2 separate regions of the Homo sapiens genome follow, and region 2 is linked to region 1. The links come from fine-mapping of genetic effects on gene expression. A gene starts in region 1. The other region holds a variant in brackets. All regions are shown on one strand. Distances are from middle to middle. Region 1 holds the start of PPARGC1A (PPARG coactivator 1 alpha). Region 2 has its middle 150 kb from the start of PPARGC1A.

Evidence for each region. PIP is the estimated chance that this variant, and not a neighbour inherited with it, causes the effect.
Region 2: its variant is fine-mapped to the expression of PPARGC1A in fibroblasts (GTEx, PIP 0.96).

What each region holds. Positions count from the first base shown.
Region 1 is chr4:23,886,487-23,894,486 of GRCh38, forward strand. PPARGC1A (PPARG coactivator 1 alpha) reads right to left here and starts at 3,561. Exons shown (of 13, transcript NM_013261.5): 1 at 3,418-3,561. The coding sequence starts at 3,471. RefSeq lists an enhancer at 1-236.
Region 2 is chr4:24,039,109-24,047,108 of GRCh38, forward strand. It overlaps a transcript of PPARGC1A not described here. Among named protein-coding and RNA genes, the nearest start is that of PPARGC1A, 150 kb to the left of the region's middle. The variant C/T (reference allele first, on the strand shown) is at 3,147.

The DNA of each region.
Region 1 (8,000 bases):
CCCCAGTGAGATCCCTGGCAGCAGGGACAAGGGAATGCAAAGAAAGGGCCCTCCTCACCATCAAAACTCTTTCCTTATCATTTTATTGGTCTTTCCTTTTATTATCTGAGTTAGCCCAAAATTACAGATCAGTATACTTGACAAGGCATATAAGTAACTGGAGGCTGGGCTGAAGAGATCTCGTTCTGGTACAATGCTCATATTTGGTTGTGGATGTAACACTGCCCAGACTCCATTCTTGCCCACACAGCTGATCCTCCAAGCCCAAACACACTATCTTAACTTTTCCTCAATGTCACCAATTCAGAGATGGGGGAGAACTTTTTCAACGGTGCAAGATACACTAGGATTTTATAGGGGCATAGTCTTTAAAAAAAAAAAAAAAAAACATGAACAACAAAAATAGCAACACAAAAGTAAAAATAATCAAGAAAATGTAGGCTGTCTACATATGGCTTAAGTTCCTGTTGTGAAACTTAGGAACCAACCATGTTTTGGAATGCTAAAGTAGCATACTGATTTGTGGACAACTTCTTCCTGTCCCTCTCTTTAACTGCCCTCTTTGGCATGACTTGCTCATAACCCTTTAACCTTCCATAAATATGTATTTTTAAATAACTTTTGAAAACCATTGAAAAGACCAGGTCAATTTGTTGTATTGGTGCTATCTTGTCATTTACATATTCCTTTCCTTCCTCTCACTTGTTCGCTCGTGCGCTCTCTCTCTCTCTCTCATTTTGCTTTTATGTTATGGTTGAGAAAAGTGCATGTGTTCTTGCCAATGTTGACATGCTAATAAAATCTGTGCTTCTGAATGTGGCATTATCCTGCTAATCTAAAACACATTAGTGGTAGCAAGTGTTCCTGTTATTAATTTATATTTGGCCTTTGGACAATGCCAGACTTAACAGTCCAAGCCCTGTAACTGTCCTCATCTGACATGCTGATATTTACTGTTTCCCTATACCTCTGTAACAGGTGTGCTTTATTGCAATTACACAGACACATTCTACTGCCTCTTTGCAACTATGACAGCTATTTCACAACTGTAGCCTCAATTTTATAATAAGATTTAAGAGGATAAAGCAGTCACTAAACACAAAAGGCTAATTATTGTATGTTATTTCACCCCAACAGACTTTTCTCTTAGTTAAGGAGCAGACAATAAATTAGCTTAACTGCACTGATGATAATGAATCATTATAATTAAGTATAATTCTCCATTAACCTTTTGGAGGTTTTTGTGCCATTGATGGTAAATTTTAAAGAGAGAGAGAGAAGAAGGAGTGGACTTGGCCACATTAATTATATTAATGAAAAAAGAAACTGGGTTCTTAAAAAAATTAGTTAAGACAGGGGAAAGGGGGTGGAGAGAGGGGCAGTAAAGAATGACAGTCTTAGTGGGGTGTATGTCATGTGAATTGTCTCTATCAATCTTAGTAACCTTACTGTATATCACCTTCATTAAACTGTGAAACACGGGGCACTCCAAGTAGCTATAGTGATATAGGCCTATATTAACCAATGTACTACCCTGTCATTATGTGCAAAAGGGCATAATACGTTTTAGGATGACAGCAAACATTAATGATTCAAAAAATGAAAACTGCCAACGCTACCTGCTGCTCGTAATATTTTATACAGGCGGAGGTGATTCCCAGAGCCGCTGCCATGTAGGCAAAGCTTCTAGCAGCTAGCTGCCTATAGTGCAACAGAGAAGTGACTGGCCAATCTCAGCCGACTGGCGACTCTATCCATGGCTGGACAAGTAGCCAAGACCTTTCCTCCTTAAGAAAAAAATTTAAAGGCCACTATTCTAAATGCTTCTGATGTTTATTTGAAAATGACTGCAGGAATTCCAATGATTAAAATAAATCTTCCTTATTTCCATATGATCTAGTTCCTCAATCAACTCCTAACAGCATCAGGAATAATACATGATGGAAAAATGAAACTACAGCAGCTGAGACCCACAGTGCCAGCCAGACAACCACCCACAGGACACTCCGGCTACTCAAAGGCAATTAGGACTTTGAAGCCACTTATAACCCTGACTCATAATGGCTACAGGGCATATGAATTATCCATATCTATTCCGCCTTACCAAGAAATCAGAACAAGATAACAATTACAATCCACAAATACGATCTACCAAGGCAAGGGAGGGCAAATGGAGCCAACATTTGCAAACCCAGCAAAGAGTTAAGAATCCCGGGCATGCCTCGCTAGATAGGAAAAATGCATTCACAGACGGCCTTGGCCAAATTATTTTCACTTTAGATGTGTATCGCTGCACCACATGGACATCTTATTTAATCAAATCACGTGTGGGCTTGATCCTCCCCCTTACCCTACGTGCCCCCAGCTACCCAGAGGAAACACTCGCAGTCTTTTGCCAGATTCATTGTTAGCAGCTGGGATCCTCCATGCAATTCAATTCGAGTCCATCTCACCAGAGTCCACAGAAAGTTTTGCTTGTTTCCCAAGTTGCCCAAACTTTCCTTCCGAGAGCATTCCATTGTGCTGAATGCAAACACGCCGAGGTCCTCCGTCCCCCCACTAGACTCCAGAGATTACGAGGAAACTGCTTGCGTTATTTTCCCCCCTGTATGAATTGTAGCCAGCAGAGACTGTGGAATTGATGTATTGCTGTCTATTTTTACACTAGCAGCGAGCAGCTCCACACACAGTCCTGCATAAACTCTATTCTCTCTCAGCTTCAGGCAGCTCTCCGTGGTACAGGAAGATTTAACCATTGGCTTCCCTGCCACCGACGCGAACGGAAAACCTTGCACTGCCAGGCGTTTCTTTTTATTCGCTGGCCAAATCTTTCAACCACGTATAGGAGTTTTAAAGGAAGCAGCATCGTTGTTTTGTGTTCTGTGGGAAAAGCAATCTAAAATAGCCCAGCAGGATTATTTAGGATTTTGTAAGTTCTCTGTCTGATGAACAGAGAGAGAGGGGGGAAAAATCCGGACTAGAGTCAAAACGGACTATATTTGAACACATCCATTTTAATATTTTTATCTTCGTCTTATTATAAATAGAAATGGCATTTTTCCAACCAGGCCACTAAACACCACTGGAAAGACTTCAGCTTCTGATTCATATCAATATCTTAGAGCATAAATATTGCATATGAGTAGAAACAGTGCCAAAGTCACATGGAAAGAGTTTCTAACTGCAACAGATACTGATGACAGCAGCTAAGCTTTGATTTGCTCAAGCCATCTCAGAGCCACCTTAAAATAGCAAACTTATTGGAGTTAAGATAAGATTGAGATTCTTCTAAAAGCTCCTGCCTGGACTACTTTCCTGGCTCCTCTCTTTGCCCAAGCCCATCCCCCCTTACAGGAATAATAGCATCTGAGGGAAGCGTCAGTTGTGGCTGCAGCGCCGAGCCCTGCCCCAGCTCACCTCGATGTCACTCCATACAGACTCAGAGTCCTGGTTGCACATGTCCCACGCCATCCAGCTCCTGAATGACGCCAGTCAAGCTTTTTCAACTCCAATCCACAGTGACACAGAGCACACACTCATGCAGGCAACCAGCCCCTTACTGAGAGTGAACTGAAGGCACCTGTCTTACTACAGTCCCCAGTCACATGACAAAGCTATTAAAAAGTAGGCTGGGCTGTCACTCACCCAGCCTCCCTTCCCCTGTGCAGCTTGCTGCTCTAACTCGTGACGTCACTCAAAGGCAGCCCTCTGCTTCAGTGAAGTAACGCTTTAAAAAAAAAAAAAAAGAAAGAAAAAGAAAAGAAAGAAAGAAAGGAAACACTTAGACTTTTGGAGGCTTCAAGCATCATGCTGTGATTAAAGCCAGCTTTGAATGCCACAGACTCTAAACGGAGCCCTGGCCATATAATAACCAAAATCCCCTGCAATCTTTTTTTAATTTATTTTCCTTCCAAAACAAGCAAGTGGCAAAGCTCCCTGTTTCATGACAGAGTAACTATATTCTTAGCTAAAACGTGTATTCCCTAAGAACTCTTTAATTCTAAGATCTCCAAGTGGACTCAAGCTCAGTTTGGGACTAAAGCAAGAGCTTATCACATGATGCATTTTTATGAGACATTTTCTCATTGAGGGAGTGTTTGAAAGCGCAAACGGGGCTTTTTTTTTTTTTTTTTTTTTTTTTGCTTGTTTAATCAACAAAATAGCCTGTATGTGTTAAGGTATAAACAAACTCCTCCACCCAGAATTCGGCTGCCCCCATGGCAGTAGGGAATACCAGCTCCCGAAGAGTTGCTGCAGTTTTCTTTGCTCCATATAAGGAGAACAAGCCACAAAACCCCATCCTTTCAGCTTCCTTCTAATTATTTCCATTTCTCTCATAGGCTCCCAGAAAACAAGTGTTAGTAAATACAGTCGCTGCTGCTCTGCTCAGATCAGCTTTGATTCCCGGCTCCTATTTTTCATACATGTAGCGTTTCCTCCCTAACTGCCTTAGGGTGCCTTTTTGAATAAACATTGAATTCCAACCCTAGTGCCCTGGGTTGTGTAGTTTGCGTTTTGAAATCAAGAATGTCTGTGAACTGAGGGAAAAATACCAACACACTATTAGCAGAAATATTCAATTCCTGAGCTTTACTTTCTATTATTTTTCAGCTTGTACCTTGAGACAATGAGGGCTAATGCAGGTAGGTGCAACTGTTTTATGATGACACTACATATTGAATACATAACAAACTCAAGGTACTGGACACAGTGGAAAAACACTTCCTGTAACATGACAGTGGTCTGACTTAACCCTTCCAAGTTCCCAGGAGATGTACACGTGTATGTATCTGTGTGAATAAACATGTTTTCATAAAATGTTAAACCCAATATACTTTTAGAATCAGCTCAATTCTTTTACTTGATAATAATTTACCTGAAAACAATCCCCCAGTTACCTAAATATAATTTGTAAAGCATTATTCTACTGAGGTTAATTTACACTGTTCTTCATTGTCCATCTCCTTAAACAGAAAAACATGGTTATTTGCCCTAACACATATTTTAAATATTAAATTGCTCAAATATTAAAGTGAAAGAAAGAACAAAAGAAACAAAATACCAGCAGACTGCTGCTTCTTTCAGACCATACATATTATAAGAGATTTGTGTGCTGTGAGAGCTGCAACAAGTTGCTAGTAAATTCCCAAATAATGTAAGGAAGTTGACAGTTTATCATTACTGGGCATAAAAAGGTGGCCAAGAGCTTTGACATTTTAAGTTTGCTGAATACAGTTCACCAGCACATTTTCCCTTTTATAAACAGCAGAAAATTACTGTAGTTTTAATTTTCTAATGAAAGAACAGGAAAATACAACCTCGGGAATGCTTTTATACAAGCAATTAGTGGCATTACTCTGCACTCCCCACAAAGAAACACTAATTTTCTTCCCAATTATATTCTGATTTAATGTAAAACTTCAGTAAATTATTAAAATTCAGGACAAAGGTCATTGGCTCTGCCCTCAAGGATCAACTGTGAAATAATATTGGTCACCTGGCCAAGAAGAGTCAATGTTTATTAATTATTATCATGTGATTCTTCCATTGTGATATTCACTGATACCTTTATTTGTGTTTATCCAATGCTAGATATTCATCATATTTTTAAAACCTATTCACATCTTTTAGAGATGTTCTTTACATTAGAACAGGCTCGTTATAATTTTTGATATTCTAACCTGCCCAGATTGTATTGTTAGGGTTTTCTTATTTTTTGCCATCTAATTCTACTTCTAAAAAATCAAATCAGCACATGCACTGAAACCAGAAGTGATTTCAAATACACTTGTGTTTTCTTCACTCTCACTATCACAAAGAGGATGGAATTCAGAAGTAACAACATTTAAAAGACTCATAAACTACAGTATATTGCATTTCCCCCTCAAATTTCTATTACTGGACAAATCAAAATTAAATAGATTCCTAGGACAAATTAGAGTGCTTTCCACGATATTTTTTTTTTGTCTTAAAACTACAACTGTAATGAGAGGGATGTTTTAGAGGTTTTATAATTTTGTTAATTAACTCTTCAGATTAAATTTTTTCTTCAGTCCAGTTTTTTTTTTTTTCTTTTCTCAGGAGAACTTAAATGGTTCATTGCTCACCAACCTTGGTTTTTTTCTGGTTCCCCGGGCCATTTCTCTATTTAATTCTCTCTCTGCTTTGACTATTTCTCTTACTCTCTACCCACAGCCCTCCTTTCACCCCTTCGTCAACTCTGTCTCCAAAATTCCCAAATATCTGGTTTCAGACAACAAGGATCTATTGAAACCTTACTGTGTGCACAGCCATGTATCACAAGGACTGCCAAGAAAGCATATGACATGGACACAAGAGAGCTTACAATTTTAGGGGGATGACAACCCTTAAAAATGGGGAATAATTTGGTATGAAAAACCAACGTCACTTGGATCAACACCCAGATTCCTCTTCTACTGCTTAAAACACACCCTGGTGAGATACAAGTTCCTTTCATTGACCACTGCAGTTCACACCCAAATCAAACCCATTTTTTCTCAACAATAGAAAGAGGTATTTATTAACATCTGCTGAGTGCCCCCAATGTTGCATATCTACACAAAGCCTACATTCCATCCTGATAATTTCTCCCCTCTGTAGTTCTGTTAACATTTTCCAGGGTTTCAATATTAGTAGAGGCAGGAGAATCTATCTCGAGTTGCTAACAAAGAGAAAAAAAAAAACCTCAAGAGAATAATTCAATTCTCTAACAAATACGTTGACTGAAGTGTATAACATTTGGGTTTCCTTCCTCACTCCTACTCCAAATTAAAGGCTTTTCCCATCCCTCCATATTTCAGACAACTGCCCATTTCTAAAAATTAGAATCAAATTCAAACCCTCAAACTCAAAAACCTCAGAGAATAGCAAAAACAATTGGTTTTGTTGTCTATATTGAATATAGGTGATTTCAGAAGCAAACTCAGAAGAGCTATTAGGATAAATATATTTGTTCATTTGTTTTTATAAGTTTATAAGTTTTTATTTTAATAAAACAAACAAAAAACTACCAGACTGCTGCTTCTTTCAGATCATACATATTATAAGAGATGTGTCTACTGTGATATCTGCAGCAAGTTGCTAGTAAATTCCCAAATAACGTAAGCAAATTGACAGTTTATCATTACTGGGCATAAAAAGGTGACCAAGAGCTTCAACATTTTAAGTTTGCTGAATACAGTTCATAAGCACATTTTCTCTCTTACACACAGCAGAAAATTACTGTAGTTTTAGTTTTCTAAATCAAGAAAGAACAGGAAAATACAACCTCGGGAATGTTTCCATATACACTATTTATACAATAACTACATAAGAATATATGTATGCAGAAACTTCTCAAGAAAGAAAGGTGGAAAGCAAGACATATACAGCAGACCACGTATGGGCTAGACATTAAGATCAGCACTTCATATACCACATCTCAGTCAATTTAGTCCTCCAAACTATCCAATAAAAATGACCTGTGTACCCATTTTATGATGGAGAAAAATAAGGCTGGGCAAGGTTTGGAGGGCAGCTGGAAAGAGCATGCAAATCGCTGAAAGCCTTTCTAGGAAGAACTAAAGTTTCATCCATAAGAATAATAATCATCCTCAAATCAAAGCCATAGCAAAGACCCTGGAGGCAACTTTATAACTGAGGGACAGTCTACATAGCTGGAAACCAATATTCCTGGGAATGCTGCCTGCCTAGAGCATTCGTCCAGAAAGCAAAGGGGCCTGCCTAGAATTGCTAATATTTTTCAAGTTAGTCATTGTTAACAGGCATTCAATTGCTTGCTTTTAATTCCTAGAGGGACTAATTGATCCTGATACCCCACATCAGTTTCTAAACACATGCTTTGGGCCTCTGGTTAGAAGCAGAGACTGCATAGAACACAAAAGTTGGTAGCAGGATAGGATATAACAAAGACTTCTATTCTATAAATACTATAAAATTAAACCTCATTTTGCTTGAAAAAAATGCCACAGTGATGTCCA
Region 2 (8,000 bases), 150 kb after region 1:
CAAAGCTTTAATGTTCCCTCTATAACTGTGAATCATCGACAAATCCCAAGTAATTTATTCGCTTTCCAATTGGAAGCATATCTTAACGGGATAAAAGTCAGAATGTGCAACACTCCTGATAGTAAACTTGTCCACCTGCTATACAACATAAATTAAGAAGCTATACTTTAGTGATTCAATTACACCACCGAGTAATTGAAAACACACAATTGCAAGGAGTTGAGGTTCTTACGAGAAATATAATGTCTGCATTCCAGATTCCCTAGTATTTGATTTATAATTGGAATATTGGCATAATATTCTACATTTGGGAGGAACTGCTCCCTTCTGGATAGTTCTAGAATGTGAATATTTAAGGCTACAAAGAATCTTAGAGCTCATATTGCTTAATCCCTTGCTTTATGTATGAGGAAATGGAGCCCAAAGATCAGTCAGCTTATAAAATGCAAAGGGAGGTCTCAAAAAGAGGCCTCTGATGCCAAGTGAGAACATCTAGGATGATGGTCAAATTCATAATCTCTGGAATTGGACAAAACTCAACCTCAGTGATGCACAAGCTACTTAATCTTTCTATAACCTCATTTCTTCCTCTATTAAAGAAAGATGGTAATTCCTAAAGCAACTTGCCACAAATGGAGAACAACTCCTAGAGTTGCTTATAGAAGTATGTTCTCCAAAATGCTTAGTGTTAAGCATACGTAAGCACTCGATAGAAACGTAGCCACAGCCACTGCTGCCACCACCACCACCACCATCAACATGATCATCATCACCATCATCATCATGTCCAGTGTCATTTCACTGTATCATTTCATAGCTTTCATTTAAATGCTATTGACACTCTCAATATCTAACCAACCATTTGGCCACAACATAGCACTGTCACTGTTCCACAATAGCCAGGATATCTCCACATCCCATCCTGAAGACAGTATACATATACAGTATGCTTCTCCAGTTTGAACAACTGAATTTCTGTCTATTTTGAGGACAACATGATAACCAACCAATAGACATCCAATACTTGATTCATTTCCTGGGCTACACACTGACTAGGTATCTTTGCATTAGGTACGACATCATCAGATCAGTTTTCCTATGCTACCTGTTCCAATCCAGCCACATACACACATCTTCCATCTTAGCCCTGTGACTATTTGTAGACTCTGCATTTTAATGTGCAAATATTTTAAAAAGCACAAATGATTTTTCTCATCACTGACCTCCATTCTGTCTCTTGACAAAGGAAACCATAGCCTCTTTGAAACCCAAAATAAGCAGATGTAATCAAATGCTAATTTAGCAATAAACAGAAAATTGACTTCAAAACATCTCTCTGTCACTCTAATTGATTAACAGTCACATGAAAATTGATAACATGATTTTCAGCAAGAGAGCGTGTGGCACAAGCTCTTTGGTTCTATTGGCTTCGGATATTGACTTCCTTCCAAATAAAGCTTTTTAAGAGTACATTAGTGAGTCCACTAATAAACTTAAAAAGCAGTCTAATTACAATAATGAACTCTGTACAATGAGTTAATGCAACACCGGAGCTTACAGATCTGAGTCTTTCGCTGAAATAAAAACAAACTACAAGTTCTGTTGAATATAGTGCAACCATAGTTTTGTTTCAATAGCAGGGAATAAATTACTATTTTTCCTCCTTGCTTTTCTAACATTTTAGCAAAATGTGCTCATATGCTATCTCCTTTCCTTAAACGTTTTCCCAACATCCATATTAATTATCTTAACATGAAATTCATTTTAAGCTGCTGATTCTCTCATGTTCACCGGGCTCAATTAGAAACCATCCTTTAGAAGTAGAAGACTGAAAACATGCAAATAGAAAAAGCTGCATTAGTCTAGGATGTGACTATTTCTAAACTGCTCAAGTTATTATAGGAGAACTTGGCTACAGTTCATCTTGGCAGTGGGAGAACCGACATTGGGATTATAATGAAACATGCTAGCTAGGTTTCCCTGTGCAGGGAATTCTCTATTTGCTCTTCCAGATCTATGCTTCACCCTTCTCTATTGCCTGTGCCTGGGAGACTGACCTTTAAAGATTGTGTCAATGGGCTTTCTTGCCTTCCACATCTGATTAGGTTGAGATATTGGAAGGCACTAACAATAGAGCCAAGGTCAAGAGGAAAATGAAGTGGGACGTTTTCCCTCCAACTCCTCCCTGCTGGGCACAGTTTAGAAAGGGCTGCATTTCTCCACCAAAGGCTACACTCCTGAAGTATTCCCTCTCTAACAGTGATAGCTTTCCCTCTCTTGAGTTCTGGAACTAGCTCCCTCCGTGGCATCTTCAGGTCCAGGTGGTCCTGGCCTCCCACTGTTGCTAGCCCTAGGGGAGTCATCACCTGCTGATTTCTTTAACCCTTCCCATATCTCGAAAATAGTCTCTTTATTAAACTCTAACCCCATTTGTATGTGCCATCTGCTACCTGCCAGAATCCTACAGATATGTCTACCTTCTATTAACCCAGTGGTTCTTTGCCTGTTGAGGGTTACACACCCCTTTGAAAGCCTAAATGAAAAGAGTATATAGAGATCATTCTCTGCAGAAAATGCACATAGTCACAAACATGAACTTTTTGATACAATGTCAAAGATTCGACACACACCCATGAAGCACATACATGGATCCCAAAGTATGAATCCTACTATGGAAAAGTGATTTTTAAGAAAACAGTTTTTATTTTCAGGAGTGAATTATATGGGTAACAAGTTGTTCTTTAAAGAGTCCTACTTTCAGGTGTCAGATTGTGAGATATGAGGTTATCAGAAGGCATCCCACCAAAAAAAAAAAGAAAGAAAAGAAAGAAATCTCTGAATAATCAACCTAAAAATATGACTGTATATGGAATCTTTAATTTTACTTCTTTCCGTATTTCTCATATTATGTATTTATCACATATACACTCAGAATGTGTTTTCCACCAGTCATGGTTTTACCTCCTTGTAAAGTTTATTATTAATCATTTCAAGTGCCATCTGGACAACTGATAAGTAAATGTCTTCAAAAATCTCTGAAAGAGATTTCTTAAAGTTCTACTGTCTACCAGCCCCGCTCAGCATTCCCATGCCTGATCTCCAAGGATGCCAATATGTATTCAGCTGTTTTTTATTAACACTGGTGG[C/T]TTCATAATATTAAAAAATGTATACACCAAGTCACCCCAATAGAAAACAGGCATGGATTGTGATGCAACACAAATTCCACTTCAAATAGTCATCCTCTCTGCCTAAATGCCTTCTCTGTAGTCCAGAATGAGCATCTTTCTATAGATGAAAGAAAGCAAGCAAGCTGAAGTCCAACACTCCAGTGAGCTTGAATCTCTTGAGGTCTCTATCAGTGGCTATTAAAATTTAAAGTGTACTGCATAATCCTTGATTCCTGAAAACACATGCTACTTATATTCCTTAAGCCACTGACAGCTTAAGCTATTCTGTGTGGGAACACAGAGGGGAACAAAGGAGCCAATGCAATAGATACCGGACCACATAAATGTCAACTGAAGACCATGTGAATAAAAACCTTAGGTGATGTCTGCTTTCTCATGTCAGTCATCTTAATGACCCAGTAGTTAAAAGTCACTTTTTAAAATATATACACTTGTTTAAATATCATGATATAGTGTATATAAATGCATATGTGCCCTATGGGTATATAAATTATTCTCTTTTTTAGGCCAAAAAATAAGATTGGTATAAAAGATTCTTAATTTTGAAGAATGCATAGATACATAAACTGCATCATTCACATAGAGTATTAGTAGTGAAGCATCTCTCTTTATTATCTGACATTATTTTCTTTGTTAACAAAGATCTCCTTGATTGTTTTGGTGACTCTCATTAACAGCAGTAATCAGCAATACCAAGAGAGTGCCTCAAAATTTGGTTTTTCTTTCTCATGATGACCTAATCTGTCAGGAAGCTACCAATTTTGTAGGCAGCTATTTGGGATCAGAAAACTGGGGTGCCTTTCCTTCTTCCTTTCCCCACACAGGTCCTCTCCTATGGAATCAGGAGATGACTTTTGTTTAATCTTGAAAGAATAAGTGGGCAGCTAAATTCAGAAGCCCAAAGAAGGGTTCCCTCCTTGCTGTCTCCAGCTCACCTATGTCCCCTATCCCGACGCCATCCAATACACTGCTGCCAAATTAATCTTACTAAAAGCACAGTCCTGATCATCCCCCTTCCAACTCAACTTGTTCAAACTCTTCGAGTGCTCTTCATGCCCTACTGAAAGAAGAAATTGTTTGAACTCTACAGCCTGAGACTCAAAACCCTTATTAGTCTGGCACCGGCTTTACTGTAACTTCATTTTTTCTACTCCGTGTTACTGTGGGTTCCAGGTGAATTACATCCTCATTCCCTGGAGGATCATATTCATTATAAACACCCCTTTTCTCATCTTTTCCCTCTACCAATACAGAATGCCTTTCCTTGGGCAGTTTAAATGTTACCTCATCGATCGCATGTTATGATATCTTTTCTATACCTTTCTACCCACTGCTCTCCAGTCCAACCCCAGTAATTTATCTGGTAATAGTTTATCTATTTGTAAACTATTAGATTCATTTTACCTAGTTGTAAAATGGGGTAAATAATGTTAGGTAACTAAGAGGATTGTATATACAACATACTTAAAACATAGCTATGGTATTTGTGGTAGTTGTTGCTTTTATCTTAAACGGGTTACTATATAGCAAGAAACTTGAAAATTGAATAGAATTTTGTTTATTTTTTTTGTCCTCCACTGCCCCTACCTGCCACAATATAAATAACTTGGAAAGACATGGAGGAAGGACATTTGAAAGAAACCACCTGTCCTCAATTCTGAGGTTAAGAAAGAGCCAGTGGTTTTGGCTTCTGAGTATATCATCCATGTAGATCAATGTGGCCTGGAAATGCCATAAGTGTACGCTGGCTTTCACTTAACAAAGAGCGTCAAATTGGGTCACTACACTACCACTAATTGCATTCTAAGAGATGTCAACCGTAACGCCTAGGCTGAAGCTCCTTCAAGAAGATGGCAGTTGAGTCTAAACAAGAACCCCTGCTGCCTTTACCAAAGGAACTGAGTCTGGCTTTTCCACAGCCTCCTTTTCAGCTTTCCTGAGCATTCACTTACATAAAAAGCAAATGAGACGCCACTTTGTCATCCTGGTCACAGTTTCTCACAAATCCTTCGTCTTTTAAAAGACCTTGAGGGTCCGATTCTAATCTGAGTTGTACCATAATGAGTCTCTTAAAAGAACCGTTCTGATGCCTGCAAGCACAGCAAAAGTATTAGGAAATACAGCATCATTAGTCAAAATCATGGCGGATTCACGGATTCACAGAAGCCTCTGTAGGGTCAGAGCAGCCATTTTGGAAGTGTTTGAGGAAAGAATGCATGCTTCCTAACTACCCACCAGCATTAACGGGTTTCATTCTGCCAAAAGATGGCGTCTTTAATCCCAGGTTTGGCATGAAAAATGTGGGCTTAGGCATATTGAACTGCTCTGCGATATTTCAGACATCATATACATTCAGCTTGCAGAACTTCTGAGCCATAAGAGCACTGGGTGCATCTCAAAATGGCATGTGGTGACAGAGAGTTCCACCAGAGCACAGGGCACCCAGTTAATTGGCAAGGCTGGTCACTGGGAAGCACACTGCACCCTCCAGCAGCTGGCAGGCCACTTAGGCAACACCCAAAGAAACATTTTAAGTGGGCAACAGTCCTTAAACCTCCTTGCACACAGCTCACATGACAACTCAGAAAAACTCCTTATTTGCACTTGTCTTGCACTTCTGGGCGGTGCTCAGAGAGAAAGAAAGGTGAGCCTTTCCACCCAGGCAAGTATTTTAAGCCCTACTGAGCACAGAAGCTCTTGGGGGAACTACCCACAGCCAGCAGGGTCACTGCTTCCTAATTTCCCTGGGTGGTACATGATGACTCAGCAAGAGCCTACATCCTAATTCTTACACAGAAGAGATCATTCTAGCTCCAGGAATGTGTGCAGGTGCCAGAGGCCCTCAATATCACTCACTGCTATGTCAACTGGTGCAAGTTTCTTAATTCATCAAGCCTTTGTTTCTTCTCTACTGTGGAAATGTGATATGAGAATAAGTATAAAATAGTTTTATAATATTGTAATATAAATATATTTTTAAAATCAGTGATTAGTTTAGATGCTGAGCAAAGATACACCACCCTATCTCTGCCAGAACACTTCTTGTGTTTGGTACTGTCACATAAAACACAGAATTAGGTCCCTAGGGGCGCTATTACAAAGTACCGTAAACTGAGTGGCTTAAAGCAACATTTATTCTTTCACAGTTATAGAGGCTAAAAGTCCAAAATCAAGGTGTCAGGGCCATGCTCTCTCTTAAGACTCCAGGGGAGAAATCCTCTATGGCCTCTTCTAGCTTCTGGTGGTTGCCAGGAATCCTTGGTGCGCTACTTGGCTTGTAGATACATCACTTCAATCTCTGCCTCTGTCTTCACATGGACTTCTCCTCCGTGTGTCTGTCTTCAAATTTCTCTCTTCTTATACAGACACCAGTAATTGGATTAGGACCTGCACTAATCCAGTATGACCTTACTCTAATTTGATTAACTATGAAAAGACTAAAAGACTATTTCCAAATAAAGTCACATTCACAGGTACTGAGAGTTAAAGCTTCATCACATAATTCAACCCATAATAAATACATTAGGCCTTTCCTGACCTCACAGTCTAAAATCAATATAACTACCAAAAACGGGCTACATCACATAGCCCAATCAACCAAAAGACCCCAAATACTTAGCAACAGTCACCAAGCCATGATATTATTTGTTTCTGGTGATGATGGCCACAGTTTAGTTCAGGTGCCAAACACAATTCCTACCACATACTAAGACTTCAATAAATGTCAAATGAACAAATATTGTGAGTACATGAACATGGACTATGTAGTACAGAAGATATAGAGTAACAATGTACCCTGAACATCCTAAAATAATCCTGATTATAAATATGCCAGCCCTACAACTTTATTTGAGCATGTCAGAACATATGTCCCTATAATGGTTTGGAAAGCAGGCTCACTAAAAGGAGTCAGGAAAACAAAAAAGCAATAAGGTTGTTTTGTTCATCAAGCACATTATTTCCCCCTCACAAGTTTCTTCTCTTCCTAGGTTTCCTCTCTTAGGAAATAATAGTCAGTAGTTGTTGAACCTTCTCTGTTGATTCCTGTCCTCTCCACTCCCATCCAGTCATTTGCAACCCTCTCCAAACTCTTCCATCTCTCTCAAAGGAGCCCCTTCTTCCCCACTCCCACTACCACTTCTTTGGTTCAGGCCCTCTTTGTATCATAAATGAGTCACTTTGTTAACTTGAATTTGGGGACCCTTCCATCCTTCTTCTACCAGACTGATTTTTTGCAATGCAAACTCGACCACTGACTAGCTTAAATTGCTTCAGTGACTGTCCTTTGTGCTCAGGATAAAATCTAAGATCTTTAGTATGTCCTGTGTGGCATGTGCTGTTGGCTATGTGTTCATCAAAACTCATTTCTTCTTCTCCTGGGCACACAGCTGGAGTTCACTGACTAGCCTTCATTGCAGTTAAGTATGACCATGTGAGTGGGTTTCTTCTAGTCAATGGAATCTGAACGATAATGACACGCACTATTTCCAACATGTTTCACAAAAATCTCTCATGCTGCCTCTCAAGCCGTGTCTGTCCCCATATCTGCCACTTGATGCAAAGGTCCACCATAGAGTTCTGGGGCCCTAGCAAATGGCGGGCCCATGAGATGGAAGAACCTGAGTTCCTGGATTGATATTGAAGACTACCTGCTACATGAATGAGAAATTCACTCCTGTTGTGTTAAGATGCTGGCCGGTGGTGGTTGTTGATCACAGCTGCAAGCCCACTCTGACTGACAAACCATTGAAGACTCTGTTTTCTGGCTGCTACTTACCTCTCCTATTCCATTATTCATTCATTATCCCTTTC